4 linked regions of the Homo sapiens genome follow. The protein of the gene in region 1 purifies or fractionates together with the protein of each later gene. This does not show direct contact. Each region holds a gene or a part of one and is shown in the gene's direction. Other genes may lie near its edges.

Region 1 (8,005 bases):
CACATCTGAGTCATCTATGTAAATGGCAATAATGAAAATGAGGGCTTTCGCTGCATGTCTAAGAAATGTCCTCTTTTGGAGACTCTTCCTTTTGTTTTACACCCAGAACTGTCTCAGAGGAGGTTCAACAGCAGGGCCTCAAGGGACCAGGAGTAGGTGGCAGACATGAGGGAGCTCAAAGAGACCACAGCACCTGCAGGGATGTGGGTCTTTAGGGCCAAAATACCACGGACATGCTAGTGCAGAGTGGAACCATCTCCCTGGGAAATATTGATCAACAGGCCAGTGTTGCCTTTCTTCAAACAATTTAACTTAAGGAGCTCATGCCCCTCAAGGTGACAAAGACGGTAAAATGTGAATTAAATGAGCAGATGTTACGTGTTTAGAACAGTGCCCTAAGTTTTCCCTGTTGTTACTCCCAATGATCACTGTAGGAGTTCATTTCAAAAGCTAAGAACTGTCCGGCAGGCTATACTAAATGGAAAAGGTGGCATGCTAAACAGCAACCTTGATCTGTATAAGCCAGCAGTTGTGTTAAAAAAAAAAAAAAAAGGTATGGAGGGGGAGGGAGAGGTGAAATATATCCTCTAGCGACACGCACATGCTCAGAAATGCCTAGGCTTTGCTGGGAGGCTGTATGAACAAGGTCCACTAAGGGTTGCCGCCTTTGAGTAGGGACATCATGGGCCTAGGATAACCAGACAGGAGAGAAATTTACTTCCGCCATATTCTTTTACTGCTTGAATTTTTTTCTTTACTATGTGTGCATTTTAACTCGCTAATTATACATATATAAATGAACCAGGTCCAAAACCTTAAGGTATATGAGTTATCTCTACTCTGGGTTCTAAATCTCTTCTGTCACCTTGGCTGTGGAGCTTAAAATTAGAATCCCGCATCCTCTTGGGAGACAGCTCAAAAAAAGGCTGGTCTCAGAATGAGCTTTAGAAACCTCCAGCACCTGTTCAATCTTCTGGGGGAGCCAGTGCAGAGGGGGAATCTATTTTTGTGTTTCATGAAACGATCCCATTTGTATGTTTCCATTTATACAAAGTTTGGGGAACAAGCAAAATGAATCTGTGGTGGCAGGAGTCAGAATTGTGACTCTCTTGGGGATGGAGTGGGGTGTGCTGGCTGGAAGGGGCAGTGAGGGACCTTCTGGGGGCTGTGCATGCTCTGAGTTGTGATCTGAGTTGTGGTTGCCTGGGTGTGCATGTATGAGAACACTTACTGAACTTCCCATTTTAAAAGGGTGCATTTCACTGTCTGTAAATTACACCATCTAATTAAAGAAAATAGAAAGCAAATTAAATCCATTCTCTGTAAACTGCATTTGAGCAAAAGCATTAACAAGCTGTGATTGGCAGTAAGACATTAGGGAACTCTGTCATTCAATTCTCAGCCACTCCCCAAATCAGGCTGGATTTTGTTTGTTTTTCATTTCAGGCATAACAGGTATTGGCTTTAAAACTCCAGGACAATGTGTGTGGCTGCAGAGAGCAGCATTCAGTCCCATGGAAGCACAGTCTGGAAGCACAGTCTGCTCACTGGACAAAGCTGAACTTGCTGTCTTTCCTTCTTCTCCTTCCTTCTCCTCTTTCTCCTTCTCCTTCTTCTTCCTCCTCCTCCTTTTTTTGCGACAGGTTCTCATTCTGTAGCCCAGGCTGGAGTGCAGTGGTGTGATCATAGCTCACTGTAGCCTTGAACTCCTGAGCTCCAGCCCAGTGTTGCAATCCTCCAGCCTCCCAAGTTGCTAGGACTACGGGTGCACACCACCACACCCAGCTAATTAAAAAAAAAATTAGGCTGGGTGCAGTGGCTAACGCCTGTAATCCCAGCACTTTGGGAGGCCAAGACGGGTAGATCACTTGAGGTCAGGAGTTCGAGACCAGCCTGGACAACATGGTGAAACCCTGTCTCCAATAAAAATACAAAAATTAGCCGGGAGTGGTGGCTCACTCCTCTAGTCCCAGCTACTCAGGAGGCTGAGGCACGAGAATCGCTTGAACCCAGGAGGTGGAGGTTGTAGTGAGCTGAGATCACGCCACCACACTCCAGCCTGGGCAACAGAGTGAGACTCGGTCTCAAAAAAAAAAAAATTATAGAGACAGGGTCGCTATGTTGCCCAGGCTAGAGCTGAGCTTTCTAACCATCAGAGCTACCCCCCAGGGAGCCAGCTGCTCCGTGAGGTGGTGAGAGCCCTGACCCTGGGGGTATGCAAACAGGAGGTGAGGGGGGACTCAGTGAGGGCATCCTGTAGTGACTTTGGGCTTGCCCATTTCAACAGGCAGAAAGTTCCTGGCAATGGGATCTCTTTCTTACCTCTCTCTTAGAAATCCACTGCCAGAGCCCAGCTATGGTTTTGTCACTGTTCATTGACACAAGTAATTAAATGTAAACAAGTAATTAAATGTAAAACCCCTACAAATGTAAAAGCCCTAAATGTAAAATGTTTAGCCCTACAAATAGGGCTAAAGTCCCCTTTGACGGTCACCCCCAGTCCTGGTTCCCTCTTGCCCCACCCGGCGAGAGCCAGTTTCGTCATGCATGTCTTTGCAGACTTCTTATGCTTCACAGTCATGTGTGCGTGATCACAGACAACACAGCGCTGTACTGTGTGTGTGTGTGTGTGCATGTTGTTTGCTTTTGGTTTTGTTTTACTAAAAGGCATCATGCTGTAAGGCTCATGCTATAAGCTACTTTTATTTACTCAGCGTCTGTCCTGAAAGCTTCGAGATTTCTCATTCTTTTAACTGTGCAATAGATTCCTGGCTCTGGCCTGTGCACCCTGCTTATTCAGGCATCCTCTGCTGCATGGACATTTACATTGTTTCCCGTTTCTCGCTGTCATGAGGAGGCTCACGGAGGAGGAGAATTTCTGGGGGGTGGGTTAGGTGTGTGTTGTGCATTTAACTGACCCTGGCTGGTTACTCTCCAGAACGCTGCTGCCAGCTCCCTCCCTCCAGTGGGCCCTGAGTTCATGCTTCTGTAGATCACCCCCCTGCCCTTGATGTTACCAACTTTAAAACTTTGCAACCTGATGGCTGAAAGTTAGTTTTTCATTGTTCAGTTGTTTTTCTGATTTTTGGGAGACTGGACATTTTCCTGTGTTTGCTGACCGTCTGCATCTCCTCTCCTGCTCTGTGCACCATCACCCTGCTCCAGCTGCTTCCTGCAGCCTCCCTCCTTCCTCTCCACCTCTCCATGTCCTCCTCGTCCTTCAGTTTCTTCCTAAGGGCCCATGGGCTTTCTTTGGCTTTTACGTTCCTCTCACTCCGCCTTTGGCTGTTGCTGGGCCTCCCATCCCCTGGGAGGTTTCAGACGATGGGGAAGACACAGGAGTGCAGTCGCCATGCAGTGCAATACGGGCTGTAATGTTCCTCCTCCACGGCCTTTATTGAGGACTTACTGTGTGCCAAGAACCTGCTCTAAGAATGTAACTGTGCTCCCTCCCTCATTTCATGCTCATAACCGCCTGTGAGGCGGGCAATGTTCTCATCCTTTTTTTTTTTTTTTTTTTTGAGATGGCATCTCTGTTGCCCAGGCTGGAGTGCAATGGCACGATCTCGGCTCACTACAACCTCTGACTCCCAGGTTCATTCTCCTGCCACAGCCTCCCAAATAGATGGGACTACAGGCACGCGCCACCACACCCGGCTAATTTTTTGTATTTTTTTTTAGTAGAGATGGGGTTTCACCGTGTTGCCCAGGATGGTCTCGAACTCCTGAGCTCAGACAATCCACCTGCCTCGGCCTCCCAAAGTGCTAGGATTACAGGCGTGAGCCACCATGCCCGACCTCATCCTTGTTTTACACAGAGAACATGGAGGCACAGAAGAGTTCCATAAATTGCCACCAAGGCCTTCTGCTAGTATGCAGCAGAGTCAAGATTCAAACGCAGGCTGTCCGGTCCTGGGGTTCAGCCTCTCCAGTGCTCTGCTAGGTGTTGGAGAGGGTCAAGGAGATACAGAGAATGAGTACCACCTGACAGGCTGGGACAGTCAGGGATGGCTTCCTGGAGGAGGTGACACCTCAATGGAGCCTTGAAGGAAGAGCAGGAGGAGCCGACCAGGCAATGAATAGAATAAGTATACCCAGGAAGAGGGAAAGGCCTGAGTGATGCTGGGAGGGTGGAGAGCTGGCCTGGCTTGGGGTGTGTGCCGGCGGGCAGGAGATGAGGACCAAGGGATGGCCAAGGCCAGATCTAGAAGAGCCTGGGCCATCCCATAGTCAATACCTCATCGCAAGGCCCGGCAGGCCTTCCACTGCTCTGTGTGTACCCCATGGGACGCCAGGAGCCTGGGCCGCAGCCACCCACCTGGGCTCCTGAGACCCAATGCACAGGCATGGGGGCGGGAGTGGGTGTGGCTGATTTACATCCAACAGGTTGAGGGGAAAACCCAGGAAGTGCAGCCCAAGCACTAATCAAATCTAAGACTAGTAATAAGCATCCTGAGTAATGAGTGGCCTGGGCCGGAGCAGGCGAGGTGGCCGGAGCCGTGTGGACCAGGAGGAGCGCTGTGAGTAGCCGGGCAGGAGGGCAGGAGGGCAGGTGGGAGGTGTGAGGAGGGTTGGGCCTGAGTGCCGTGGGGGTTGCAAGGTCCAGCAGGTGCAAAGCCCACAGCAGATCCACACACTGGGGCAGTCCCAGCCTCCCCAAGCTCCTGCACATGGAGAGCCCCGAGTCTGGATGCCTCTGGGATGTGGGGCTTGCCTTCCGTGACAGAAGCCACTGAGGTTGCAGGGTTGGCCACACCGGCAGGAATTCCCTTTGTCACCATGGCCCCTGCACAGCCCCCATTTTCCCCCTTACATGCCCGCTGGACCATTTTAATGCTAATCTCAAATACCAGATTGTTTGAGTTGTGGAGACCACAGGATTTATTCCTTAAGAACACAAACCCTAAAAACAAAACAAAAAACTAAGCATCATACCTTCACCCCTGCTGAAACAACAATTCCTGAACATCATCACATAGCCCGCCAGGGTTCAAACTGTACCAACTGTCTCACCAATGTCTTTCTCAGTTGACTTGTTCAAATCAGCCTGTCCCACATTAGACTTTTGGCTATGTTTTAATCTATAACAGTTTCCACCCATTTTTTCTGTTATATATTTATATTTATATTTATCCTATAGCTTTCTTTTTTTTTGTTTTGTTGTTTTGTTTTTGTTTTTGTTTTTTGAGACAGAGTCTTGCTCTGTCACCCAGGTTGGAGTGCAATGGCATGATCTCGGCTTTCTGCAACCTCCGCCTCCCGGGTTCAAGCCATTCTCCTGCCTCAGCCTCCCGAGTGGCTGAGATTATAGGTGCCCACCACCACGCCCGGCTAATTTTTTGTATTTTTAGTAGAGATAGGCTTTCGCCACGTTGGCCAGGCTGATCTCAAACTCCTGACCTCAGGTGATCCACCTGCCTCAGCCTCCCAAAGTATTGGGATTACAGGCATGAGCCACGGCACCCGGCCCGTATAGCATTTTCATCAGGGTGGGTTTCTAAGGTTTTATGAAAGGGCCCCAGGTCCTTTAGTGCAGACAGAACCCATGGCCAGATGGACCCGGGGCACAGCCTAGATTCACAGCCTCTGCCTGCTGCTCTGTCCCACACCTCAGGCAGGGAGCAAATTTGTTCTTCAGTCCTTTTTTGTGTCCAGCCACCAAGTCCCCAGAATCTACACAGCCAGGGGCTCAAATATGTAAAGTTTCTGAGAGACTTGGACAAGGCAGTGACCAGAGGCTGCCTTAACACAGGATGAAATTGCCCAGTGCTCTGGGGCCACGAGTCAGGACCCAGCTAGAACTGTGACCTGGCAGTGGCAGAAGCTGTCTGGTGCTGCCGAATCAGCCCTGGCCGGTTGTCCACTGGCCCACTCTGGGACCTTGGCTGAGCCGCTTCCCCTCAGTGTAAAATGAAGAAGACTGTCTTTCCTACCAGACATCCCTCAAACACACAAAAGTGCTTTGATGAAACTACCAGACCCCCTCTTGGGGAGTCATGAGGAAAGGCTCTGAGAAGCCCTGCGGTTAAAAAACTGCCTTGACTTTCTTTAACCCAGTGTTTTTCAAACTAATCCGACCACAGAGCTCTTTCTTGGTGCAGCACCTGTTAACCGGCCAAGCCCGTGAGGAGGCACAAGCAGAGGGCTCTGAGAATCACCCTCCTTGGCTGCTCTCTGGTCTCGGGGTGCAGGAGAGAGTCTCCATCCTGCATCCAAATTTGTGGCGGCCCAGAGTCTGAGCCCAGCCCACACAGCTAGTGTCAGAGAGGTGTTCCCTTTCTTCCCTTTCCATCAACGAAGCTTCTCTCTCAAGCTTCTATTCTGCCTGGCTGGTGTCAGTCATGGGGTTTTCCTGCCCTCCTTTGGCACTTGATGATGGTTCTGGGATTTTATGTAGGTCCACATGGTGGTAGAGGAGGGGGCGGGGACAGGCCCTCTGGTCAGCTTGGCATCTGCTGTCTGGTCAGTCAGGCACTGTCTCTCTGTCAGGTCCAGTGGCTTTTGGTGGCTTTGGTCCAGGCAATGAATGGGTCTTGGAACATCTCCAAGGCTGCCCTTGTCACATAGAACGTCCTGCCCACCTTCCACTCAACCAACCCTTCACGGTGATATGCGGCGGGTGGTGGCTTTCTCCCTCTTTGCTCCCCAACCCAAAAGTGGGGAGAATCGGGTCTGCCTTTAATTTTGTTTGATCCTTTGATTTTAGATTTGCCTTTGAATAGATAGTATAGTCAGATGGTTTGAAACCCAGAAAGTATTGAAAGATATATAATAGAAAGTCTTTTCTTCCTCCTTGTCCTCCATCTGCCCAGTTCCCACCTCCCCTAGAATAAGCAGCTTTATTTACATATAACTTACATGCCATGAAATTCACCTGTGTAAAGCATACAAGTCTGTGTTTTTAGTATATTTACAGAGTTGTGCAACCATCACCATAAGCTAATTTTGGAAGATTTTGATGACCCCAAAAAGAAACTTTGTCAGTCTTCATTCCTCCCTAGCCCCAGGCTAATCTACTCTCTGTCTCTATAGATTTGCCTGTTTTGGACATTTTCCATAAATGGAATCATATGTGATGTATTGTGACTAGCTGCTTCCACTTGGCATAATGTTTTCAAGGGCCGTCCATGTTGTAGCAGGTATCAGTACTTGCTTCAGTTTTGTGGCCAAGTAACATTCCACTTTATGGATATGTCATGTGGCTTTTCCAGTCATCGGTGGATGGACATTTGGGTTGTTTCTACTTTTTTTGTCACTGTGATTATTAAGAAAGCTTCTATGAACTTTTGGATTCAAGTTTTGGGTGAACATGTCTTCATTTCTCTTAAGTAGATAGATACCTACAAGTGGAATTGCTGGGTCATATGATAAATTCTATGTTTAACATTTTAAGGAACTGCAAAATGCTTTCCAAAGCAGCTGCACTATTTTATAATTCACTTCATGCATGAGGGTTCCAATTTCTCCACATCTTCACCGACATTTGTCATTGACTGTCTTTCTCATTCTAGCCATCCCAAGGGGTGTGAGGTGGTATCTCACTGTGGTTTGGATTTGCATTTCCCTAGTGACAAATGATGTTAAGCATCTTTTCATGTGCTTCTTTAGCCATTTATATGGTTTTTTTGGGGAAAATGCCTATTGAAATATTTAGCCCATATAAAAATTGGGTTGCCTTTTCATTATTCTGTTATAAGCATTCTTTATATATTTTGGATACAAGCTCCTTTTCAGGTATAATATTTGAACCTATTTTCTCCAAGTTAGTGAATTGTCTTTTTACTTTCTTCATGATTTGCTTTGGAACACAAAAGTTTTTCATTTGATTAAGTCCAATTTTGATCAATCTTCTCTTCTATCACACGCACATTTGGTGTCACTGCCTAGCCTCAAATCATGAAGATTTACTTCTATGTTTTCTTCTATGAGTTCTGTGGTTTTAGCTCTTACATGTAAGTCTATGATCTACTTTGAGTTAATGTTTGTGTGTGGTGTGAGATAATGG
Region 2 (7,858 bases), on another chromosome or scaffold:
CCGGCACGGTCGCTGGGTGCAGCTCTGGCCTCTCTCCGCCACACTGGCCTCCTTTATGCCCTAATGCAAGACCCCCAACCCCATCCCCCGCCATGTGCTGGGGAAGCAGAGCGCAAACCCCCTTCCATGTGCTGTGCTCTCTGCTTAAAGTTTTCTTTTCTATCACCTCCATTCCTGAATTCATTATTATTTCTCCTCCTCATCCATCTTTCAAGCCTTCAAAATATAGATGATAAAATAGTACACACATCCTTGGTATATACCCAAAAGAATTAAAAACAGCTGTTCAAACAAAAACTTACACACCAATGTTTATAACAGCACTATTCACAATAGCCCAAAGATAGATGCAACCCAAATATCCATCAACAAATGAATGGATAAACAAAATGTAGGTGACAGCGGCCCTCCACATCCGTGGGTTCTGCACCCTCAGATAGGAGGCTGTAAGGGACTCGATCACCCAGGGATTTGGAATCTGAGGAGAGTCCTGGAACCAATCCCCTGCGGACACCGAGGGATGACTGCACTCACGCAGAGGAATACTATTCAGCCACAAAAAGGAGTGAAGAACCAACTCATGCCATGGCACGCATGAAGCTTAGAAACATTATGCTGGCCAGGTGAGGTGGCTCACGCCTGTAATCCCAGTGCTTCAGGAGGCCGAGGTGGGCTGGTCATCTGAGCCCAGGAGTTCAAGACCACACTGGGCAACATGGCGAGATCCCATCTCTACCAAAAACAAAAATCAGCCAGGCGTGGTGGTGCATGCCCGTAGTCTCAGCTATCTGGGAGGCTGAGGTGGGAGAATCGCTTGAGCCCTGGTGGTGGAGGTTGCAGTGAGCCGTGATTGCACCAATGCACTCCTGCCTGGGCGACAGAGAAAGACCCTGTCTCACTTTTTAAAAAGAGGGGGGCAATGTCCTTTGTGGAGGAGGAGGAGAAACTTTTATGCAAAGTGAAAGAAGCTAGTCACAAAGGAACACATATGGTATGATTATTCCATTGATATGAAATGTCCAGAATAGGCAAATTCATAGAGACAGAAAACTGATTATTAGTTGACAGGGGCTGGGGATAGAAGGGAGTGTGGGAATGACTGCTAATGGGCTTAGGGTTTGTTTGGGCTGATGAAAAGGTTCTGGAACTAGGCTGGACATGGTGGCATACGCCTGTAATCCTAGCACTTTAGGAGGCTCAGGTGGGAGGATGGCTTGAGACCAGGAGTTCAGATGAGGCTAGGGAACAAAGCAAAACCCCATATCTACAAAAAGAAAGAAAGAAAGAAAGAAAGAGACTCACGCCTGTAATCCCAGCACTTTGGGAGGCCAAGGCAGGTGGATCACCTGAGGTCGGGAGTTTGAGACCAGCCTGACCAACATGGAGAAACCCTGTCTCTACTAAAAATACAAAATAAGCTGGGCATGGTGGCACATGCCTGTAATCCCAACTATTTGGGAGACTGAGGCAGGAGAATCGCTTGAACCCAGGAGGCGGAGATTGCGGTGAGCCGAGATCACGCCATTGCACTCCAGCTTAGGCAACAAGAGTGTAACTCTGTCTCAAAAAAAAAAAAAAAAAAAGAGTTCTGGAACTAGACAGCGTGGATAGTTGTGCAACATTTACTTAGTGCCATTGAGCTGTGTGATTTAAAATGGTTACAATTATAAAGTTTAAGTGTATTTTACAAAAAACATGTTAAAATACACACACCCATATTCTGACTACCAGCTTTGAAATATTAGGGATACAAATGACTCCCCGCGGACCACCCCCTCCAAGATCTGATTGCCTCTCCTATCTCAAACATAACTTATATCTTGAATTTGGTGCCTATTATTACCACAGACATTTTTAGACTTTTATTCCATGGTATATATTCTTTAAAATATAGTATTATGGACAAGGTGCTTTTAAAAAGCATGCTCCTAGTCTGGGCACGGTAGTTAATGCCTGTAATCCCAGCACTTTCGGAGGCTGAGGTGGAAGGATTGCTTGAGCTCAGGAATTCAAGACTAGCTTGGGCAACAGAGTGAGACCCCATTCCTATTTTATTTATTTATTTATTTATTTATTTATTTATTTATTTATTTATTTGAGACGGAGTCTTGCCCTGTCGCAGGCTGGAGTACAGTGGCACGATCTCGGCTCACTGCAACTTCCGCCTCCCAGGATCAAGCGATTCTCCTGCCTCAGCCTCCGGACTAGCTGGGATTGCAGGCGCGCACCACCATGCCCAGCTAATTTTTGTATTTTTAGTAGAGACGGTTTCACCGTGTTGGCCAGGCTGGTCTTGAACTCCTGACCTCAAGTGATCTGCCTCCCTCGGCCTCCCAAAGTGCTGGGATTACAGGCATGAGCCACCACGCCCGGCCTTTTATTATTTCTTTTAAATCATGCTTCTGATCCACTATCATTTCTCCTATCTGTTTGTGAAGTGAAACTTCTTACTGAGACTCGCTAGGTTTGGAAACTTCTAGTATCTCACTTTCATCCTCTGTAAAAGGGAAAAATAATGGTACCTACTTCATAAAGCAAGGAGTAAATGGGATCATATTTGTAATACGCTCACAAGAGTAAGCTATTATTTTTCATTTCATTTATTTTTATAATCCCCATGTATTTCTTTTTCCTTTACTTTTTTCTTTTCTTTTTTTTTTTTTTTTTTTTTTTGAGGTGGAGTTTTGCTCTGTTGCCCAGGCTGGAGTGCAATGGCACGATCTCAGCGCACTGCAACCTCTGCCTCCCAGGTTCAAGCCATTCTCCTGCCTCAGCCTCCTGAGTAGCTGGGATTATAGGCATGTGCCATTATGCCTGGCTAATTTTTGTACCTTTTGTAGAGATGGGGTTTCACCATGTGGGCCAGGCTGGTCTTGAACTCCTGGCCTCAGGTGATCTGCCCACCTGGGCCTCCCAAAGTGCTGAGATTACAGGCGTGAGCCACCATGCTTGGCCTCCTTTACTTTTTTGAGTATATAGCACATTCACACGGTTTTGAATTCAAAAAGTACAAAAAGCCGGGCACAGTGGCTAATGTCTGTAATTCCAGCACTTTGGGAGGCCGAGGCAGGTGGATTGCTTGAGCCCAGGAGTTCAAGCCCAGCCTGGGCAACATAGGGAGACCCCATCTCTACAAAACATACAAAAATTAGCCAGACATGGTGGCACACTCCTGTAGCCCCACCTACTCAGGAGGCTGAGGTGGGAGGATTGCTTGAGCCCGGGAGGTCGAGGCTGCAGTGAGCCGAGATCACACCACTGCACTTCCTCCAGCCAGCCTGGGCAACAGAAGGAGATCTCATCTCAAAAGAAAACAAAACAAAACAAAAAAAAACAAACAAACAAAAAAACAAGGATAGAGTGTAGTAAATTTCTGTCCTGGAAGTTAGACTATGTTGCCAGTTTCAGTTTCTTCTCTCTTGTTCCAGTTCATCTGGACACAATCCCAGAACACACACAAACCCAGAACAGGCTGCAGGCTGTACTTGACCTTCCATTTTTCTCTTCTACAGGTTATCACTTGGAGACTTACCATATATGCACACGGTGAGCTTCTTTGTTCTTTTCTATGGACACCTAGTATTCCACTGGGTGGATCAGTCATGATTTATTACTCAGCTCTCCTACAGATGGGTGTTTAGATTGGTTTCAGCTGTTTGCAGTGATGTGCAGTACTGCAATGATTAACCTGGTGCAGACATTATTTTGTGCAGTTCCGAGTAGATGCCTCTGAAGAATAAATTCCTGGAATTGCTGGCTCGGTAAGAATGTTCCAGGTTCTACTTGCCCCAGCCGTGTATGAAAGGACCTGTTTGCTCGCACTCTCATTAGCACTGTTTGGCAGGAATGTAACCTTAAACAAACAGCGTCAAGCTGTGGGTATACTCCTGCAAAATGCCTTTTCTGCTCCAGAATAGGTTTCTGAGATGTCGCCAGGTTGGTTTCATTCTGCCAATTTCAGCTGAAACATTGCTGCCTCCAGGAAGACCTCAGGAATCACCTCCTCCCAGTGTGAGCTCAGCTCAGTGCCTTCTGTTCTCTGCATTCCCATAGCAGTTCCCTGCCTCGGAGCACACGTTCCCCCACATGCACTCCAGCGTGATTGATCCGTATCTATCTGCCTTCCCCATCAGACAGTGAGCTCCGGTTTTTGCCACTGTGACTCCAGCACCAAGGACAGCACCAGCCCATAGTAGGTGCTCAGTAAACATTGGCTGCTAAGGTCCCAGTGAATATGCGTATATGTAGACAAATATATGCAGGCTGGCCCGTAGTAGATATTCAGTAAATATTGGTCGCTTAGGGTTGAATGAGTATATGCAGGGGCTTTCACAAAGGGGGAAACCGAGGCTCGAAGTGGGAGAATCCTTCACCCAGACAGCCAAGGGAAGGCTGGAGCCAGGTTCTGATCCAGAGTGCCAGTACTTCCTGAAGCCTCTGTCACTGATTCATTCATCTTCCTCCCCCGGCCACTCCCCTGGCCTGACACAGTGCCTGGCACAGACAGGACCTGATAAATGTGTATTTGTTGAAGGAATGAATGAATATGTGTGTGTGCATGTTGGGGAGCCGGGAGTAGCTGGACCCAGTGTTCCAGGCCCTCAGCACCCTCCGCCCTCTGGGAGCCCGGGGGACAGGCCCCCAGCCCCCTCCCCTCACAGGACCCTGTAGTGCAAGCTGCCTTCCCTCCCCTCTCCAGGTCCCCCGTCCTCCCGCTTCCGGCTTCCCAGCCAGTCTTTCCTCTTTCAGGCTCCGAGGAAAGGCCAGGTTTCCGGGGGGAAGGCTTAGGCAGTGACACCGAGCCCAGCCTCCTCCTCCACCCCCCACCACGCTCAGGCCCCCCTCCCTCCCCGCCACCACCGTCCGCGTTTGGCCGGCCGTGGGGAAGGAAGAAAGGAGCCAAGGAGGCGAGGTAAGAACCCAGCCCCAGCGACCAGGACCAAGCCCCAGGCCCAGGGCTGAGAAATCCTCAAGGCCTCGACCCGGCCCCAATTCTGCTGATCATGCCTTCGGGGAGCTGCAGGCTTGGCCCGGAGGAGATCGGCCCCCCTCTAGGACCTGGGACCCCCGACCCCCACCAGCCTCCCTCCCGAGTCCAGGGGTCCGGCCCTCAGTCGCCTCCTCCCTGGGGATTCCCGGCAGCTGGGTCCCCAGCCCCCGCCTCCCCCTTGTCCTGGGAGCCCAGCCCCCTCCCCAGCCCCTCCTCCACCGGGACCCAGGAATCCACACCTCCTCCATACCAGAGTCCAGATTCCCCAATCCGTCATGACCTGGACCCAGGAGTCTCAATCCCCAGCTCCCATCCCCATCAGTCCCAAGAGTCTGGGCCCCTAGCCCCCTCCCAACTCAGACCAGAAGTCTGAACCCTCCTACTCCCCGACCTCTCCCAGCCCCTGGCATCTGAGAACACACTCTATTTCCGGGGCCTACCGGCTTCAAATCCCACCCCCTCCACTCAGGCCCCATGGGCTGTGTCCCAGCCCCTCCCAAAACGTTCAGCCTGGCCGGGGGACCTGGAGCAGAAGCGGTTCGCTGACTTTGTCCCCCTCCGTGCCTCTGCCCAGTTCACTCCCTCTGTGTCTCTGTCTCCCTGTCTCTCCGGCCCCCAACCCGCCACTGCTCTTCTGATCTCTGCTCTTGCACTATCTCTGCCTCTGGTTCTCCAAGTCTCTTTGTTTCCTCTTCTCTGTGTCTCTGTCTCTCTGCTGGGTGTTCCTCACTCTCCTCTGTCTCTTCTCTGCTCTGCCTTTCACCATCCTGTCTTTCTGCGACTCCTGGTCTCTGTCTGTCCATCCCCACTTCTCTGTGTCTCCCATCTCTGCCTTCTCCTGTCTCTATTCCCTGCTCTGTCGCTCTGTCTCTGATCTCTCTCCTCCTGTCTCTCCATCTCTGGCCTCCCCTCGGTGTCTCTCATCTTTGTCTCTGTCTCATATCTCTCTCCTGGCTAAATACCTGACCCTCTCTGCCTCTCCATCTCTGACTGTCTCTGCTTCTCTTTCTGCCACACCCCACGCACCTCTTTTTATCTCTGCCCCGCTTCCCATCTCTCCCCTCTCTCCCCACAGGCATGGATCCGCAGCCTCCTCCACCCGCCCAGGGCAGCCCACCTCACCGTGGCCGAGGCCGGGGCCGTGGCCGAGGCCGTGGTCGGGGCCGTGGCCGTGGCAGGGGGGGCGCTGGAGCCCCTAGGGCGCCCCTGCCCTGCCCCACCTGCGGCCGCCTCTTCCGTTTCCCCTACTACCTCTCCCGGCACCGGCTGAGCCACTCGGGGCTCCGGCCCCACGCCTGCCCGCTGTGCCCCAAGGCCTTCCGCCGGCCGGCCCACCTTTCCCGCCACCTGCGCGGCCACGGGCCCCAGCCCCCGCTGCGCTGCGCCGCCTGCCCCCGCACCTTCCCAGAACCGGCCCAGCTCAGGCGCCACCTGGCTCAGGAGCACGCGGGCGGCGAGGTCGAGCTGGCCATCGAGAGGGTGGCCAAGGAGACGGCCGAACCCAGCTGGGGCCCGCAGGACGAGGGCTCGGAGCCGCCCACCACCGCTGCAGCAGGGGCCACGGAGGAGGAGGCGGTCGCAGCGTGGCCTGAGACGTGGCCTGCGGGGGAGCCTTCCACGCTGGCTGCGCCCACCAGCGCCGCGGAGCCCCGGGAGTCGGAGTCGGAGGAGGCCGAGGCCGGGGCAGCAGAGCTGAGGGCCGAGCTGGCGCTGGCGGCCGGGCGGCAGGAGGAGAAACAGGTCCTGCTCCAGGCAGACTGGACGCTGCTGTGTCTGCGCTGCCGCGAAGCCTTCGCCACCAAGGGCGAGCTCAAGGCGCACCCGTGTCTGCGCCCCGAGGGCGAACAGGAAGGGGAAGGGGGGCCCCCGCCACGCCCCAAGCGACACCAGTGCTCCATCTGCCTCAAGGCCTTCGCCAGGCCCTGGTCCCTGTCGCGCCACCGGCTGGTCCACTCCACCGACCGCCCTTTCGTGTGCCCAGACTGCGGCCTGGCCTTCCGCCTCGCCTCCTACCTCCGCCAGCACCGCCGCGTCCACGGCCCCCTCAGCCTGCTGGCCCCGCTGCCCGCGGCGGGCAAGAAGGACGACAAGGCCTCGGGTGCACGGAACTCAGCCAAGGGGCCGGAGGGGGGCGAGGGGGCGGAGTGCGGGGGTGCCTCGGAAGGGGGAGAAGGGCAGAACGGAGGCGACGCCGCCCCGGCTCGGCCCCCCGCCGGGGAGCCCCGCTTCTGGTGCCCAGAGTGCGGCAAAGGTTTCAGGCGCCGGGCGCACCTGCGGCAGCACGGGGTGACCCACTCGGGAGCGCGCCCCTTCCAGTGCGTGCGCTGCCAGCGGGAGTTCAAGCGCCTGGCCGACCTGGCGCGCCACGCACAGGTGCACGCGGGGGGCCCAGCCCCGCACCCGTGCCCCCGCTGCCCGCGCCGCTTCTCGCGCGCCTACAGCCTCCTGCGCCACCAGCGCTGCCACCGCGCAGAGCTGGAGAGGGCCGCCGCGCTGCAGGCACTGCAGGCCCAGGCCCCGACGTCGCCGCCACCGCCCCCGCCGCCCCTGAAGGCCGAGCAGGAGGAAGAAGGGCTCCCGCTGCCCCTCGCAAACATTAAGGAAGAGCCGCCCTCTCCGGGGACCCCACCCCAGTCCCCGCCGGCTCCCCCTGTCTTCCTCAGCGCCTCCTGTTTCGACAGCCAAGACCACTCAGCCTTCGAGATGGAGGAGGAAGAGGTAGACAGCAAGGCTCACCTGCGCGGGCTGGGGGGCCTGGCCTCCTGACCTTCGCCGCCCTGCCCTCCGCCGCTCCGCCTGAGCTCCCCGGTTTGCAGAATGGAGGAGGGAAGTTGAAGGAGCCACCTCCTCTGTCTACCCACCCGTCCC
Region 3 (7,956 bases), on another chromosome or scaffold:
TGGATTTTTATAATGCTTTTTGATGTTTGTATAACAATGACTTTTTTTTTTTCTTTTTCACCTTATTTCATTGCACTGCTTCTAATCATTCTCTTCTGGTTTAAATCCCATAGTACTGTATTTTTAAAAATCACTAAAGTCTCTTCTTTTTCTTTCTATTTCTCTTTTTACTTTTTAAAATGATTTTCAAAAGTAAGATTGGTTTGTAAATTTTGGGAGGGATATTTTTGTCAGGTATCTCTATTACCTGTCATTGGAAAGTTTCCATTATTCTTTGCTTTCTGAGATAATTTAAGTTGCTTTGGAAATATGTTTTTTAAAATTTTAATAGAATTCATTTGTGAAACTATCAGTATCTAATGATTAAATGTGTCTTTTTACAGGCTGTTTTGTAGAAATGATTTGTTTAAGTTTATCTTTGCTGGCTTTAGTTTGGTACTTTGGTAGTTTTTTCAAAAATTATCTTTTTAATCTAGATTATCAGCTACATTTGCATTGGGAAGCAAATTTTATCTTCATCTGATACTATTTCCCCCCCTTTCATATTTTGTGGATTTTTACATTTAGGTCCACTTTCACCTTTTTGACCACTACGTCCTAGCCCAAGTAGGCATCCTGTAGAGCACATTTAAACATGGTGTTCCTTAACATTTTATAAATGGCTATACAGTTCACTTTTAAAAATATATTTTAATGGAATTTTAAAGTACATGCATAACTCTTGAAGCACTGCCATAGCATACTTTAAAAAGTTATTTGCATTAATTATTCGTACTGTTTAAAAGCAGTACAAAGCAGATAATGTAGTACAATACAGTTCAGAAATAGACCTAAGTTTATACAATCATGTGCCACTTAAGAGGGATATGACCTGAAAAATGTGTTGTTAGACAATTTCATTGTTGTGTACACATCACAGAGTGTATTTACACAAACATAAATGATATAACCTACTACACACCTACACTCTATGGTATATAGCCCGTTGGTCTTAGGCTACGAAACTCTGGCATTGTGTTAACTATACTGAATACTGAGGCACTTGTAACACAATGGTAAGTATTTGTGTAGGCAAACATATCTAAACATAGAAAAGGTACAGTAAAAATAGGGTATAAAAGATAAAACATGGTATACCTGTATGGGGTACCTACCATGAATGGCATTTGCAGGACTGGAAATTGCTCTGGGTGAGTTAGTGAGTGAATGTAAAGGCCTAGAACATTACCATCGTATTTTATAAACTCGTACTTTAGACCTTATAAACACTGTACACTTAGGCTATACTAAGTTTATAAGAACATTTTATCTTTCTTTAATAATAAATTAACCTTAGTTTGCTCTAGCTTTTACTTTTAAACTTTACAATTTTTAAAAACTTTTTGACTCTTGTAACGCCACTTAGCATAAAACAGACACGTTGCACAGCTGTACAAAAATACTTTCTTTATATCCTTATTCAATAAGCTTTTGTCTATTTTTAACATTTTTTTATGTTTTACTTTTTAAACTTTTAATTAAAAACTAAGACACAAACACATACATTAGTCTATGTCTAAACATGGTCAGAATCATCAGTATCACCGTTTTCTACCTTTACGTCTTGTCCCACTGGAAAGTCTTGAGGGGCAGTAACACACACACAGCTGTCATAGGCAATGTGTGTATTATAGGCTGAGGCCTACGATAACAGTTCCTTCTTCTGAAATACCTCCTGAGGAAACTGCCTGAGGCTGTTTTATAATTAACTTAAAAAAAATTAGAGTACACTCTAAAATAATGATAAAGAGTATAGTATAGTAAATATGTAAACTAGTAACAGTCGTTTGCCACCATATTCAAGTATTATGCTGTACATAATTGTGCGTGCCATACTTTTATATGACTGGACTGGCAGCACAATCGGTTTGTTTACACCAGTATCACCATGTGAGTAATGTATTATGATAGTTATAAGGTCACTAAGCAATAGGAATTTTTCAGGTTTATTAAAATCTTAGGGGACCACTTTTGTATATAGTCATTGTTGACCAAAACATTGTTCTGTGGTGGCTGACTTTATGAGGATTTTAATGGATCACAAAGGAGTTGTTTTAAATCAAGGAATAAAACAAGTTATTCAGTAAATGATGTTGGGGCAATTGACTAGCTATTTGGAAAAAAGACAGCATTATGTCTTTTTTAAATATCCAAATAAATTAAATTGGATGAATTTTTTTTCTTTTTTTAATACATAAAACATTTAATACATGCTACAAAATTCTTTTTTTTAAATAGTAAAATCCTAGGGATTTAAAAAAAATAGTCTTAATATTGAGAGGGCTTTTTAAGGTATGGCACGATATTCATAAAGGAAAATATTGGTAAATTCCAGTACATGAAAAATTTAAAACTTGTTGATGACAAAAACAAAAGAACAACAACAACCCCTTTCTCTCCAATAAAAGGTGCATCATAAAATCAAAATCCAATCGGGGAAAATATTTTGCCCAAAATATCACCAAACTTCATTCAATTAGAAAAATACAAGCAGGCCAGATTGTGAAAAAAGTCAAACATTTCACTTCTAATAGAAAGTCACACAAGATGTACAAATACACAAGATTGTTCATATCTGTAGAAATTGCTTTAATTATGCTAAATATATAATATATATGGCCATTCAAGAAAAGTGACATTTATTGGTATGGACATCGAGAGATATTTATGAAAAGAATTGGGTTAATAATTTAACCATGAAGTTATAAACTAGTATGTTTCCGTATACATACCATACATATTTATATACAGAAGTTCTTTCAGTATGTGTGTAGAAAAATATATGTAGGATTTAACTCCGAATTCCTCACAGAATAGTGGTTATCTCTTAGGGCTAGGGATAATCATGGACTGCTTTTTTACATTACGTGGCCTGAAATTTTGAATCTTTGTAAAAAGTGAAATGGGTGGGTTACAGAAGGAATTGTTTAAACTTTAAAGATTTTATGTTGCAATTACCTGAAATATTGGTTTCTTGAACTTTTCTAATATAAAACAATAGTTTTATCAAAATGAAAGTAATTATGGAATATGTTTCTTATAACATCAGAAGTTCTTAGTTTTCCTGAGTAAATTTACATCTTTACAAAGCAAAAACTCAGTTCTTTCAAAAATTTACACAGCCTAATTCTCAAGTTTGTAATGGAGCAATGTTAATAAAAAGTTTGTAAATCATTTTGTAATTAAAGTTGAAACTTTAGAAAGTTGTAGCCTCATCTTATAGATTTGAGGAGCTGTGTGCTGAATATAGAGATGTGTAAAGTTAGATCATCAGAAATTTTTGTCAGTAACTTATTTTTGAAAATGTCAGTAACTCTTTTGCTTTTTAGGTGAATTTTTTTTAGCTGAATGTAAGGATGAGTTTTATGAGTAGGTATTTTGCATTAAACAGTTGGAATTCCTTATAGAATATGATACATTTTTATGTAACAGTGATAGCTTCAAAAAATTGCAAATTGTCCTGGAACTAAAATACATATAAGTACTTTTTAAAAAAATTCTAGTTGTATGACATTGTGACAAAAATTCTCTGAGCAGCATTTGAACAGGCATGAAATCTTTTAAATTTATCATAAATTTATATGTGCAGGTTTAAAATTTATACCTGGGGATTTTAATACCACACAACTTATGTCAAATATCATTGAATATGTAATTGTTTCTACATTTCACATTATGCTGTACTTTGAGATTGTATTATAAATCTTGTGTGAGTATAAGTTATTTGGCAATATGTTGCTAACACTGATTTACCTTAGTTCATGTTACTCTAATTTGAATGCAGTTTCCAAACCAGCCACTTAATATAGCAAGTACTTAGACATGACTATTTTTTAAGTTCACGTTTTATATTCAGTTATAAAAGTTTGGTAGGAAAAACTGTTTTTCAATAGAAGAGTTCAGAGGGGTTTTTTTTCCTTTCATTGAGACACTTATATTTTGTTTTAGTTTTATAATAAACATTTTATGGTAGTTGGTCATTTGATGTAATTTGAAAATAATATACTTTACACATGCAAAATTATTATTAAAGATTAATAATTATATACCATTTGTAAATGAACAGTAATTGAAATAAAATATATTTAGCATATTGATCCTAATTTAGACATTGATTCAGACATTAAAACTAGGATCTTGAAGTACCTTGGGATTGTCATCTTAAACAGCAGTTGTCATTGTGTTATAAACATGTAGACATATTTCTTTTAGTCAAATATTGGCCAGTAGTGAAATAGCTATATTTTATTATGAGAAATTATTCTTGTTTTCTTTTTAAAGGAATTTGCAATTACTAGTCTGATTGTAGGAGTAAATAACCATAAAAAGTAAAGTGTAAATTATAATAATAGTAAATTGAATAGTAAATAATCAAAAAGCAAATGGGCAGATAGCCATCTTCAGTTGTCTTTAGCTATTTTAATTTTAATGTTAGGCACTATGACATTTATTTTTTTCTTCAGAAATTTTTAATGTCTTATATTCCAATATTTTTAATCATTTTAGGCTGCAGTTCATGGAGCTCGTTTCAAAGGGCAAGATCTAAAACTGGCATGGAATAAACCAGTAACTAATATTTCAGCTGTTGAAACAGAAGAAGTTGAGCCTGATGAAGAAGAAGTATGTTATTTTTTTTCCACTTATTTTTACCCTTAATCGTTCATAGCTTTTATATAAAATGTGATTTTTATGGCCGTGATTTTAACATAAAACTTTTATTCCTGACCCATAGTCCAGGCAGGGGATATCAGATAAATGCAAACAACTTTAAATTTTCTGGATAATGAGAAGAAATGTGGATTGCTAATTCAAAAAGAATATATGAAAATCATATATATATACTCAATTTTTATTTACCCTTAGAGACAATGATTATTCATTAGATTTTTATCCACAGGAAATCTTGTAATATTTTAAGTTTTAGGATAATCTATTCTCAGTTGCTTTATTAACATTTCAGCTTTCCTTTATTTTAATTCATTTATCATTTTAGTCATTAGAATGAATGCCTGTTATATGGTAGATACTGTCATAGGCACAAAAATGAATAAGACACGGTCCCTATCTATCATCAAGGAGCTTATAATCTGAAAAGGGGGGTGGTGGCAGACACATAAGAAACTAGTTACAATAAAAGGCAGACTGATAACGCTGAATAAAGATTTGAACAACATGCTCTGGAAACTCAGAGGAAGGAGTGATTGTTTCCATCCCAAAAATTTTAAAGGAGGTATTGATAGTGGAACTGGGCCCTAAGCAGTAAAACAGCTTCATAAGCTAGAACTGGAGCTGGTAATATAATTGAGAGGTATTTTAGATGGAGGGATAAGCATCAGGAAAAATGAAAGTGTGCATTTTTCTTTGAGTAACAGCAGTTAGTCTGATGGCTAAGAGGTACGGGCCAGTGAAGTGTTAGAGGCCTTTGAAACCAAAAACTTAAAAGTAAGCAACTCTTACTTAATCACAAAATAAACTTTAGGAAAAAGTTTAAGTTAATAAATAAAGGTAAGGTGGGAAAACTAAATAATTCCATGTTTTACCTTCATAATGGCACTTCATTTTGTTTGAAGAGCATTTCAAGGCTGTTATACATATCCATAGTCAAATGCAAGAATAAAAATGTATATTTTGAAACTCATATACATGATTTGTCATTTTATATTTTAGATTATACCTTTGTCCTTCCATGAGTTTGAATTGAATGGGGAGAAAAGCAGGAGAGCTCCTGGTATTAGGTATTTTGAAAAGTTTGAAATAGCAGTCTGAGAAGTGTTTATGAAGGGAATGGGGAAAAGAAAGGAATGCAATAATAGAAAATGTTTGTTGCATACAGCAGAAAATAAATATAAATATAAATCTTGGTAGAATTTTATACAAGTCATTGGTTGATTTTAGTATTCAAGGTTAGGAGGGTAAATTAGAGAAAACTTACTGTTTTCTTTTTTAAAAAGTTTGACCAATATTTTAAAGGTACAGAAGATGGCGTAATTTGCTAAAGAGAGGCAGGAAAAAATGGCATGTACAAAGGCTTTATTTGATATTTGTTTAGTGTGTTTCATGCAAGCAATAGAATAGATCATATAGAGAAACCATTGAGTGGTTAAATGTTGCTTTTCTTTGTTTTGTGAATGTTCTAGCTATAAAAATACCTTTTGTATTCAACTCTGTTGAGAGAGATGAGTATTTAAAAGTGTCACCTTTTTTTTCTTTTCTTTTTTTTTTTTTTGGGTAAATTCCTAAATACATTTTAACCTAAAGTTTCAGGAAGAGTCTTTGGTGGATGACTCATTACTTCAAGATGATGATGAAGAAGAAGAGGACAATGAATCTCGTTCTTGGAGAAGATGATTTGACTGATCATTGATCTGCATATGCTAGAACTCTACCTGTGTTTCATTAGTATTATCTAATGTACTTTTACATATTTGTAAAAACAATTTTTGGTAAAATGTGATGAAGATGGATTTCACAAATAGACAAAAAAGAAGAAAACTACCTTCTGATCTTGTATTTTGAAAGATTGATGTTTGCATTTTACTTCAGTAAACAATTGCTAAAGACATCACACTAGAAACATATGCAATGTTTTTATTACATACTTCTACTGGACATCACAGAATTCTTTGGGTTCTTTGTAATTTAATGAATAGGTCTGAAAACTTATGACCAATACTTGTTATAACTTAGAGGACTTTGTTTTATTCCAAATAAGGAATGAATTTGCATTTAAAATCTTAATGAATGTTTTCAAAACTGAATAGATAACATAGTACTCTAACTAAAGTCTCCAAGTTATGTATTATAATATTACATAGTAGTATGCTTAGGCTTTACTATGTATTAGCCTTTTGTTGGACTGTGTATGTATTTTACCATATGGGTTTTAATGATAATGGTGTATGACTGCTTTACATGAGTCCTTATGCATCCAGATGTTATAATAAAGTGGAATGGTCTCTTTAAAAAAAAAAAAGGAAAGAAAAGAGAAAAGCAATGACAAAAAAAAAAAAAAAAAAAAAGCCAAGACAATGTTCCTTGATTTAAAAAAAAAAAGAAAAGAAAAAAGAAAAGAAAAAAATTAAAATAGACCATTCCAGATGGTGATCTACCCTTCCCCCCAATTATCACAAAAGGAGCTATAATCACTAACTTATTCTTAATAATAATGGTTACTGGTACCCTTACAATAATGTACAATCCAATGTTTAAAAATTATACCACTTGAGTTTGGTTTGATCCTATAAATTTTCAACAAATGTCTTAAAATTTAAAAGCAGGCTGATTAGTTTGGAACCAGACTGCAAGTAGAGCTAACATTTGGTGAATAAGAAAACATCACATTACATTTTGGATGTATGAAAGAAAACTTGACCATTTGAAGATATATGAATAAAGAAATGTACTATAGATACTACTTTAGGAAAACACTGTTTGGTAAGTGTTCCAGTCTGATATTTTAAGTGTGTACTTCCTATACTTGTATAAAAATCTTTGATGTTTGCAACAATACTGTGATTTTTTTAAGTGGATTTCTTTTGCAAGTGAACATGATCATTGAAAGTTGATATGGCAGTTTCCAGGAAATAAATGCATTCTTTGTAGAATGGGGGTGGGAGATTACATATTTATATTTTCAAATTCATCATTTTGATTGCAAGTGTTTCTGCCTCTCTTGAGATTATAGTGATAATATTAAAAAATCACATTTAAAAAATTACTTTCTTCCATATTGGGGTCCTCACAATCAAAAGCTGTTGTTCCACCACCACCATAGTCTTCTGCCAGTGGAGTAACTTAAGGATGCTGTTCTTTTTCTTCTTCCCCATACACCCCTAATTGGGGTTGAAGTTGTGTGTATTTTCTTGATGGTAACACTATTTCATAGAAATGCTTTGCCTTGCAATTCGTGTCTACGTT
Region 4 (7,808 bases), on another chromosome or scaffold:
CAGCACTTTGGGAGGCCGAGGCAGGTGGATCACAAGGTCAGGAGATAGAGACCAGCCTGGCTAACATGGTGAAACCCTGTCTCTACTAAAAATACAAAATTTAGCCGGGTGTGGTGGCGGGCACCTGTAGTCCCAGCTACTTGGGAGGCTGAGGCAGGAGAATGGCGTGAACCCAGGAGGCGGAGCTTGCAGTGAGCTAAGATCATGCCACTGCACTCCAGACTGGGCGACACAGCAAGACTCTGTCTCCAAAAAATTAAAAAAAAAATAATAAAGTATTCAGGGATAAAGAGAGAAAAATAAATTTAGATTGTATACATATGTAAAATATATTTTAAAAGGTAAGCTTGTCTTTTTTATTCCTTAAAGGAGCAGATATTAAAAAAAAAAGAATAGAATAACTCATCTTTTTAGCCTCCACATATTTACTTGCTTCTTCCCAAGTTACTTGGTCTAATTCAGTATATAAGTAACTGACTCTCACTGCTTTTTCTGTGCCATGTAAAACTTGCATTGTATTAATTTGTGTGCTTTTCTCCTGTGGACCTGTCTTATGTCAACTTAATTCTCAGGCCCAGCCAAAAAAAAAATACCCTTAAAGGGAGCTTAGCTTGCCTCCATGACCCTCAATGGTGGCTGTAATCAAACCACATCTTCCAGGCAAACAATACCACATCCTATGGCCTTGCAATGGCATGGCCTCCCTCCAGCACAGCCTCTCTGGAGGAGGGGGAGGCAAGGGTGGTGAGATCTCAGGCCTCCCTCATGCTACCTCCTATTAGTTATATGACCCCTGGTGTCACCTCTCCCACCACACTGTAGGCTCCAGGGAGTAGGATTCACATGGGGTTCATTTGTCCTCCCTGCCTTCAGCAGACTCCAGGCACAGGTGTTCCCAGAGTAAAGGGCTCACTGTCTGCTTCCTGGGTGAATCATTCTCCCCGCAAACCCATGAGGTGAGTGCAGTCGTGGCTTCAGCTCACCGCCTGACAGGCTCCAGGCTGTAGCACAGGGAGGGCCCTGTGGACTCTGCTGAGGAACCATACGAGCTCCCAGAGGCCAAGTGCAGGACAGAGAATAGAGAAGCAGCTGCTCAGAGAACTCTAGCCCTGTAGAGGTGCAAATATGGCTGCTATTATACAGAAGGTGAGGCCAAAAATGCTGGAGACACTGCTCCTGAATCTCAGTTTTGCCACTTGTAAAACAGGGAAAACAACCTACTCTCATGTCCCCAGGTTGTTAGGAAAATCCACTACATGAAGATGTGCAGTCTCTGGCTGGGAGCAGGACACCAGCTGCCCAACAGCACAGGCTCAGGGCATGGCACTGTCTCCACTGTCCCCATCCCCAACCTGGAAGCTAGAGCCTCGCTGCCCTGCCACTTCTGGATGCAGGACAGAGAACCGGAACTGGGACTGTGGTCTCTCAGTAGAGGCTGTGAACAGCCATCTGTGGCCACACGGATTGAGACCTTTCCTGCTCACTCTTCAAACTGGGGCACCGGCTGGGTGCCCAACAGAAAGACAATTGGAAGAGTGGCAGGTAAACCAGGCTGTGGCCCTGCAGTGCCATCACCGTCCTCATTTGAATTCTGGCTCGTCTGTTCCTCTACGGCCCCTCCGCATGGCGCTCCACCCCAGTCTTCAGAAATTTCTGCCTCAAGCTCAGGGAGCTGGTACTGAGGTACAGGTAGGAGAAGGTGCAGCCTCTGCTGAGTGGAGGACATGTGCCCTGGGGATCCAGAGTCTAGAGTGACTGACACCAGCCCTGCAATTTGTCCTCCTAGACCTGTTAACAGAGCCTGCAGAAGTTTACACAGGGCTGCTGAAGATTTTTATCCCCTCATTTTACAGGAAGGAGCTGGGGCCATACCAGAGTCAGAGCTGGACCGGGAGCACGGCAGGGCCCAGCCATCCACAGCCTCCAATTTCAGTACTCTCTAACAACCTGAGAGCCTGAGCCTTCGGATCTTCTTGATTCCTACTTTGATAAAGAGAGGGATGGGGTTGGAAGGACCTGGCATAGAGATTGGACCAGTCCGGCATTGACAGAGCCAGGACCTGGGGTCCGGAACTGAGCTCAGCTCCAGGCTCATCTGAAGTCACCCTGACAGCCTGAGGATGGAGACCTTATTTCCATTAACAGGCATGGCGGTTGGCAGGGACTGGCCCCAGCTGAGCACGGTTTTCCAAGTACACAGCTGGGAATTAAGTCTTCTCTGCCGCCCTCCCCTGTAGTCTTGCCTGGATCCCCCCAGTCATCTACTCCCAGTACCAAAAACTCCTGTATTCTTGAAAATCCGTAGTACTGAGAGGTGACAGCTTGCTGGCAGTCCTCAACAGCCCTCGCTCGCTCTCGGCGCCTCCTCTGCCTGGGCTCCCACTTTGGCGGCACTTGAGGAGCCCTTCAGCCCACCGCTGCACTGTGGGAGCCCTTTTCTGGGCTGGCCAAGGCTGGAGCCCGCTCCCTCAGCTTGCACGGAGGTGTGGAGGGAGAGGCGCGAGCGGGAACCGGGGCTGCGCGCGCGGCACTTGCGGGCCAGCTGGAGTTCCGGGTGGGCGTGGGCTCGGCGGGCCCTGCACTCGGAGCAGCCGGCCGGCCCTGCCGGCCCCGGGCAATGAGGGGTTTAGCACCCGGGCCAGCGGCTGCGGAGGGTGTACTGGGTCCCCCAGCAGTGCCGGCCCACTGGCGCTGCGCTTGATTTCTCGCCGGGCCTTAGCTGCCTTCCCGACGGGCAGGGCTCGGGACCGCCATGCCTGAGCCTCTCACCCCCTCCGTGGGCTCCTGTGCAGCCGGAGCCTCCCCGACGAGCACCTCCCCCTGCTCCAGGGCGCCCAGTCCCATCGACCACCCAAGGGCTGAGGAGTGCGGGCGCACGGCGCGGGAGCACGGCGCGGGACTGGCAGGCAGCTCCACCTGCAACCCCGGTGCGGGATCCACTGGGTGACGACACCTGGGCTCCTGAGTCTGGTGGGGACGTGGAGAACCTTTATGTTTAGCTAAGGGATTGTAAATACACCAATTGGCACTGTGTATCTAGCTCAAGTTTTGTAAACACACCAATCAGCACCGTGTGTCTAGCTCAGGGTTTGTGAATGCACCAATTGACACTCTGTATCTAGCTAGTCTGGTGGGGCCTTGGAGAACCTTTGTGTCCACACTCTGTATCTAGCTAATCTGGTGGGGAAGTGGAGAACATTTGTGTCTAGCTCAGGGATTGTAAACCACCAATCAGCGCCCTGTCAAAACAGACCACTCCGCTCTACCAATCAGCAGGGTGTGGGTGGGGCCAGATAAGAGAATAAAAGCAGGCTGCCAGAGCCAGCAGTGGTAACACTGTGGAAGCTTCCTTCTTTCCCTCTGCAATAAATCTTGCTACTGCTCACTCTTTGGGTCCACACTGCCTTTATGAGCTGTAACACTCACCTTGAAGGTCTGCAGCTTCACTCTTGAAGCCAGCGAGACCACGAGCCCACCAGGAGGAAAGAACAACTCCAGACCCACTGCCTTAAGAGCTGTAACACTCACTGGGAAGGTCTGCAGCTTCACTCCTGAGCCAGTGAGACCACGAACCCACCAGAAGGAAGAAACTCCGAACACATCCGAACATCAGAAGGAACAAACTCCAGACACGCCGCCTTTAAGAACTGTAACACTCACCGCGAGGGTCCGAGGCTTCATTCTTGAAGGCAGTGAGACCAAGAACCCACCAATTCCGGACACAGTACCATGAAGGAATGAAAATACATAACAATGTGATGTATCATGTTTTATTTCCTAGACTAGTGACAAATGAAAGCTAAGTGTAGCAAGGGTGCAGGGACACAGGCACATTTGTGGACTAGGTGTGAGTGTAAGCTGGGTTCGATGGTCTTTTGGCCAACATAGTGAACCCCTGTGTCTACTAAAAATACAAAAATTAGCCAGGCGTGGTGGTGCAGGCCTGTAGTCCCAGCTACATGGGAGGCTGAGGTGGGAGTATCGCTTGAACCTGGGAGACGGAAGTTGCAGTGAGCCGGGATCACACCACCGCTCACCAATCTGAGCCACAGAGAGACTGTCTCAAAAAATAAACCACAAGGAAGGGAGGTAGGGGGAGGGGGAGGGAGGGAGGAAAGAGAAAGAGAGAAAGGAAGGAAAGAGAAAGCAGGAAGGACGGAAAGAAGACGAAAGAACGAAAGAAAACGAAAGAAAAAAGGAAAGAAGAGAGAAGGAGAGAACAGAAGGGGCAGGTGCCCCTGGGAAGGGGAGAAGATCAAGACGCGCCTGGAAAGCGGACTCTGAACCTCAAGACCCTGTTCACAGCCAAGCGCGCGACCCCGGGAGGCGTCAACTCCCCAAGTGCCTCCCTCAACTCATTTCCCCCAAGTTTCGGTGCCTGTCCTGGCGCGGACAGGACCCAGAAACAAACCACAGCCCGGGGCGCAGCCGCCAGGGCGAAGGTTAGTTCCGGTCCCTTCCCCTCCCCTCCCCACTTGGACGCGCTTGCGGAGGATTGCGTTGACGAGACTCTTATTTATTGTCACCAACCTGTGGTGGAATTTGCAGTTGCACATTGGATCTGATTCGCCCCGCCCCGAATGACGCCTGCCCGGAGGCAGTGAAAGTACAGCCGCGCCGCCCCAAGTCAGCCTGGACACATAAATCAGCACGCGGCCGGAGAACCCCGCAATCTCTGCGCCCACAAAATACACCGACGATGCCCGATCTACTTTAAGGGCTGAAACCCACGGGCCTGAGAGACTATAAGAGCGTTCCCTACCGCCATGGAACAACGGGGACAGAACGCCCCGGCCGCTTCGGGGGCCCGGAAAAGGCACGGCCCAGGACCCAGGGAGGCGCGGGGAGCCAGGCCTGGGCCCCGGGTCCCCAAGACCCTTGTGCTCGTTGTCGCCGCGGTCCTGCTGTTGGTGAGTCCCCGCCGCGGTCCCTGGCTGGGGAAGAGCGTGCCTGGCGCCTGGAGAGGGCAGGGAGAGAGGGGGACACGGCGGGGGTGCGTGGCCCGGGTCGCCTGCGGCCGGGCATGTCCGGGCAAGACGCACCAGTCGTCGGAGTCGGGGGAAGAGATGGGTCCCCGGGTTGGGCAGGAGCGACCTGGGCCGCCAGGGAACAGAGCGCGCGCTCCACTTGGTGTAAATTCCCGAATCCAGTGGGGGAGGGCGACAAGGAGGGAATTCCCGAGTAAGCTGCGTGAAGCCACGGAGAGGTCGTCGGACTTTGATTTTGTTTTCTTTCCTTACTTTCTGTTTCTTTCTCTTTTTCTCTTTCTTCCTTTCTTTCCCTCCCTTCCTTCCTCGCTCAGTTCCTGCCTTAATTTCTTTTTCTTTTGCGCCTTCGAATGAATTCCTAAAGGCGCTCATTGCAGATCGCTTTGAACCTGCGGCCGGCGAAGAACTCCCCTGTGGTCGCTGCGGCCCAGTGGTTCCGTTCCGTGCGCGGGAGTCGTCGCGGGCGCAGCTGGAGAGGCCCCTTCCCCTCCTTAGCGGCTGCGCCCCTACGCGTGCGGGGCCGCTCATCGCCAATGCCATTGTTTGGGGTTCCTTGGGAAAACGAGATTTAGGAGAAGGGAGTTGTGGCACTTGGGGCCTGACCTGCTTGATAATAGCAGCTGCATTTTGGCCTGGGAAGAGCCTTTCTTGCCACCTCTTGGCAAGTATCCGTGATAATGGGGAAGGGACAAAGAGTCGGCTTTGTAGGGAACAGCATGGTGTGCTCAGCGCCTGGAACTGCGCTTGGGGCCAGGAGAGGTTCTGAATCATCACATTTTACAGAGGAAGAGACCGCAGCTCAGAGTGGGGAAGTGTGTGGGCCTAGACCTAACTCAAGACTGTACAGAGGGGCTGGAAGGGAGAGGAGGAACAGTGAAAGGAAGGTCAAGAGAATGCTGGTGTTGACCTAGAAGAATGTCAGTGTGAAGCATTGGAGTTTCATGGGATATTGTTACACACCTCATGTTTTCACTGTTTCCGCCCCACACCACAGTATGTCCTTGGTCTCACCTCTGAGTGGAGGGAGGACCTAACTGTCCTAGTGAGGAGAGTGTACAGGGGCCTCTGCCTCCCCCTCCTGCTGTGGTTTCTGTGGGCCTAGGTCCCCAGGGCATCTTGCCTCTCTTTGGGTGGTGGATCTTTGGTCTCTGGCTGCTTTTAAAGATTTTTCTTAGCACTGGTTTGCAGTGATTTGGTTTGTTTGCTCTGTTGTGGGGTTTTTTTTTTATCTCTATAAAGAATTTTTTGGATTTTTGGCTTTAGACTTTCATGTTCTTTCTACTTGGAAGATTTTTCTGTAAAGAAAGCCACAACTGGGTTGTGTTGAATTTCTTGGATTTGGGGTTTTAGAGTTTATGTTCTCCTTGGAGACTTTTCTGTAAAGAAAGCCACAACAGCCGGGTCTGGTAGCTCATGCCTGTAATCCCAGCACTTTGGGAGGCCGAGGCGGGCAGATCACATGAGGTCAGGGATTCGAGACCAGCCTGACCAACATGGTGAAACCCCGTCTCTACTAAAAATACAAAATTAGCTGGGTGTGGTGGTGGGCACCTGCAATCCCAGCTACTTGGGAGGTTGAGGCAGGAGAATCACTTGAACCTGGGAGGCAGAAGTTGCAGTGAGCAGAGATGGCGCCACTGCACTCCAGCCTGGGAGACAAGAGCAAGACTCCAACTCAAAAAAAAGAAAGAAAGAAAGCCACAACAGAGTTATGTTGAATTTCTTGGATTTGGGGTTTTAGAGTTTATGTTTTTGTTTGTTTGTTTGTTTGTTTTGAGATGGAGTCTTGCCTCTGTCGCCTAGGCTGGAGTGCAGTGGTGGGATCTCAGCTCACTGCAACCTCTGCCTCCTGGGTTCACGCCATTCTCCTGCCTCAGCATCCCGTGTAGCTGGGACTACAGGCATGCACCACCACGCCCAGCGAACTTTTTGTATTTTTAGTAGAGACGGGGTTTCACCGTGTTAGCCAGGATGGTCTGGCTCGTGATCTGCCCGCCTCAGCCTCCCAAAATGCTGGGATTACAGGGGTGAGCCACCACGCCCAGCCGAGTTTATGTTCTACTTGGAAGATTTTCAGCCATTATTTCTTCAAATACTCTGTCTCTTCTGGTGACTGAGATCTTATTATATTTACGTTAGAATGTTAGATTTTGTATCAGAGCTAACTTAGTATCTGTTCTTTTTTTTCCCCCATCATTTTCTATGTTTCACTTTGGACATTTCCCTGTGAGGGCTCTTCAAGTTCATTGATCTGCTTCTGCAGAATCTAACCTGCTGTTAATCTCATCTACTGTATATCAGATATATATTTTTTGAACTTTAGAAGTTCTCTTTTGGCATTTTTAATATCTTCCATCTATTTCCTGGTCATCTTTGTGTTTTTCTTTTTTGAGACAGGGTCTTACTCTGTCACCCAGGCTGGAGTGCAGTGGCACAGTCAGAGTTCACTGCAGCCTCAACCTCTTGGGCTCAAGTGATCCTCCCACCTCGGCCTCCCAAGTAGCTGGGACCACAGGCACTTGCAACCACACCTGGCTAATTTTTGTATTTTTAGTAGAGACGGGGTTTCACCATGTTGCCCAGGCTGGTCTCAAACTCCTGCGCTCAAGGAATCCTCCCACCTTGTCCTCCCAAAGTATTGGGATTACAGGCCTGAGCCACCGTGCGCAACCTATGATTTTGGTGGTGGTGTTTTTTGTTTTTCTGTTTTTTAAATATTCTTGAGTATATTTGTAAGCTTTAGATGACCTGTTTTAAGTTATTTAATCTATCAACACCATTATATCTGTTATTACGGCCACTGTTTCTGTTGATTACATT

Evidence for each region.
Region 2: the proteins of TNFRSF13B (region 1) and ZNF579 purify together in Homo sapiens (co-immunoprecipitation; 3 studies listed by BioGRID and IntAct, with this or other methods). This does not show direct contact.
Region 3: the proteins of TNFRSF13B (region 1) and RBM26 purify together in Homo sapiens (co-immunoprecipitation; 3 studies listed by BioGRID and IntAct, with this or other methods). This does not show direct contact.
Region 4: the proteins of TNFRSF13B (region 1) and TNFRSF10B purify together in Homo sapiens (co-immunoprecipitation; 3 studies listed by BioGRID and IntAct, with this or other methods). This does not show direct contact.

The regions. Positions count from the first base shown.
Region 1 is NC_000017.11:16,968,530-16,976,534, reverse strand, and holds the start of TNFRSF13B (tumor necrosis factor receptor superfamily member 13B), read left to right. Parts: upstream 1-4,416; 5' UTR 4,417-4,459; coding exon 4,460-4,520; intron 4,521-8,005. UniProt on the Homo sapiens protein: Receptor for TNFSF13/APRIL and TNFSF13B/TALL1/BAFF/BLYS that binds both ligands with similar high affinity. Mediates calcineurin-dependent activation of NF-AT, as well as activation of NF-kappa-B and AP-1.
Region 2 is NC_000019.10:55,577,849-55,585,706, reverse strand, and holds the start of ZNF579 (zinc finger protein 579), read left to right. Parts: upstream 1-4,858; 5' UTR 4,859-4,912; intron 4,913-5,564; exon of another isoform or gene 5,565-6,065; 5' UTR 6,066-6,067; coding exon 6,068-7,756; 3' UTR 7,757-7,858. UniProt on the Homo sapiens protein: May be involved in transcriptional regulation.
Region 3 is NC_000013.11:79,319,052-79,327,007, reverse strand, and holds part of RBM26 (RNA-binding protein 26), read left to right. Parts: intron 1-4,545; coding exon 4,546-4,659; intron 4,660-5,706; coding exon of another isoform or gene 5,707-5,805; exon of another isoform or gene 5,806-6,297; coding exon 6,298-6,387; 3' UTR 6,388-7,956. UniProt on the Homo sapiens protein: May be involved in the turnover of nuclear polyadenylated (pA+) RNA.
Region 4 is NC_000008.11:23,065,853-23,073,660, reverse strand, and holds the start of TNFRSF10B (tumor necrosis factor receptor superfamily member 10B isoform 1 precursor), read left to right. Parts: upstream 1-4,629; 5' UTR 4,630-4,766; coding exon 4,767-4,910; intron 4,911-5,240; exon of another isoform or gene 5,241-5,432; intron 5,433-7,808. UniProt on the Homo sapiens protein: Receptor for the cytotoxic ligand TNFSF10/TRAIL. The adapter molecule FADD recruits caspase-8 to the activated receptor.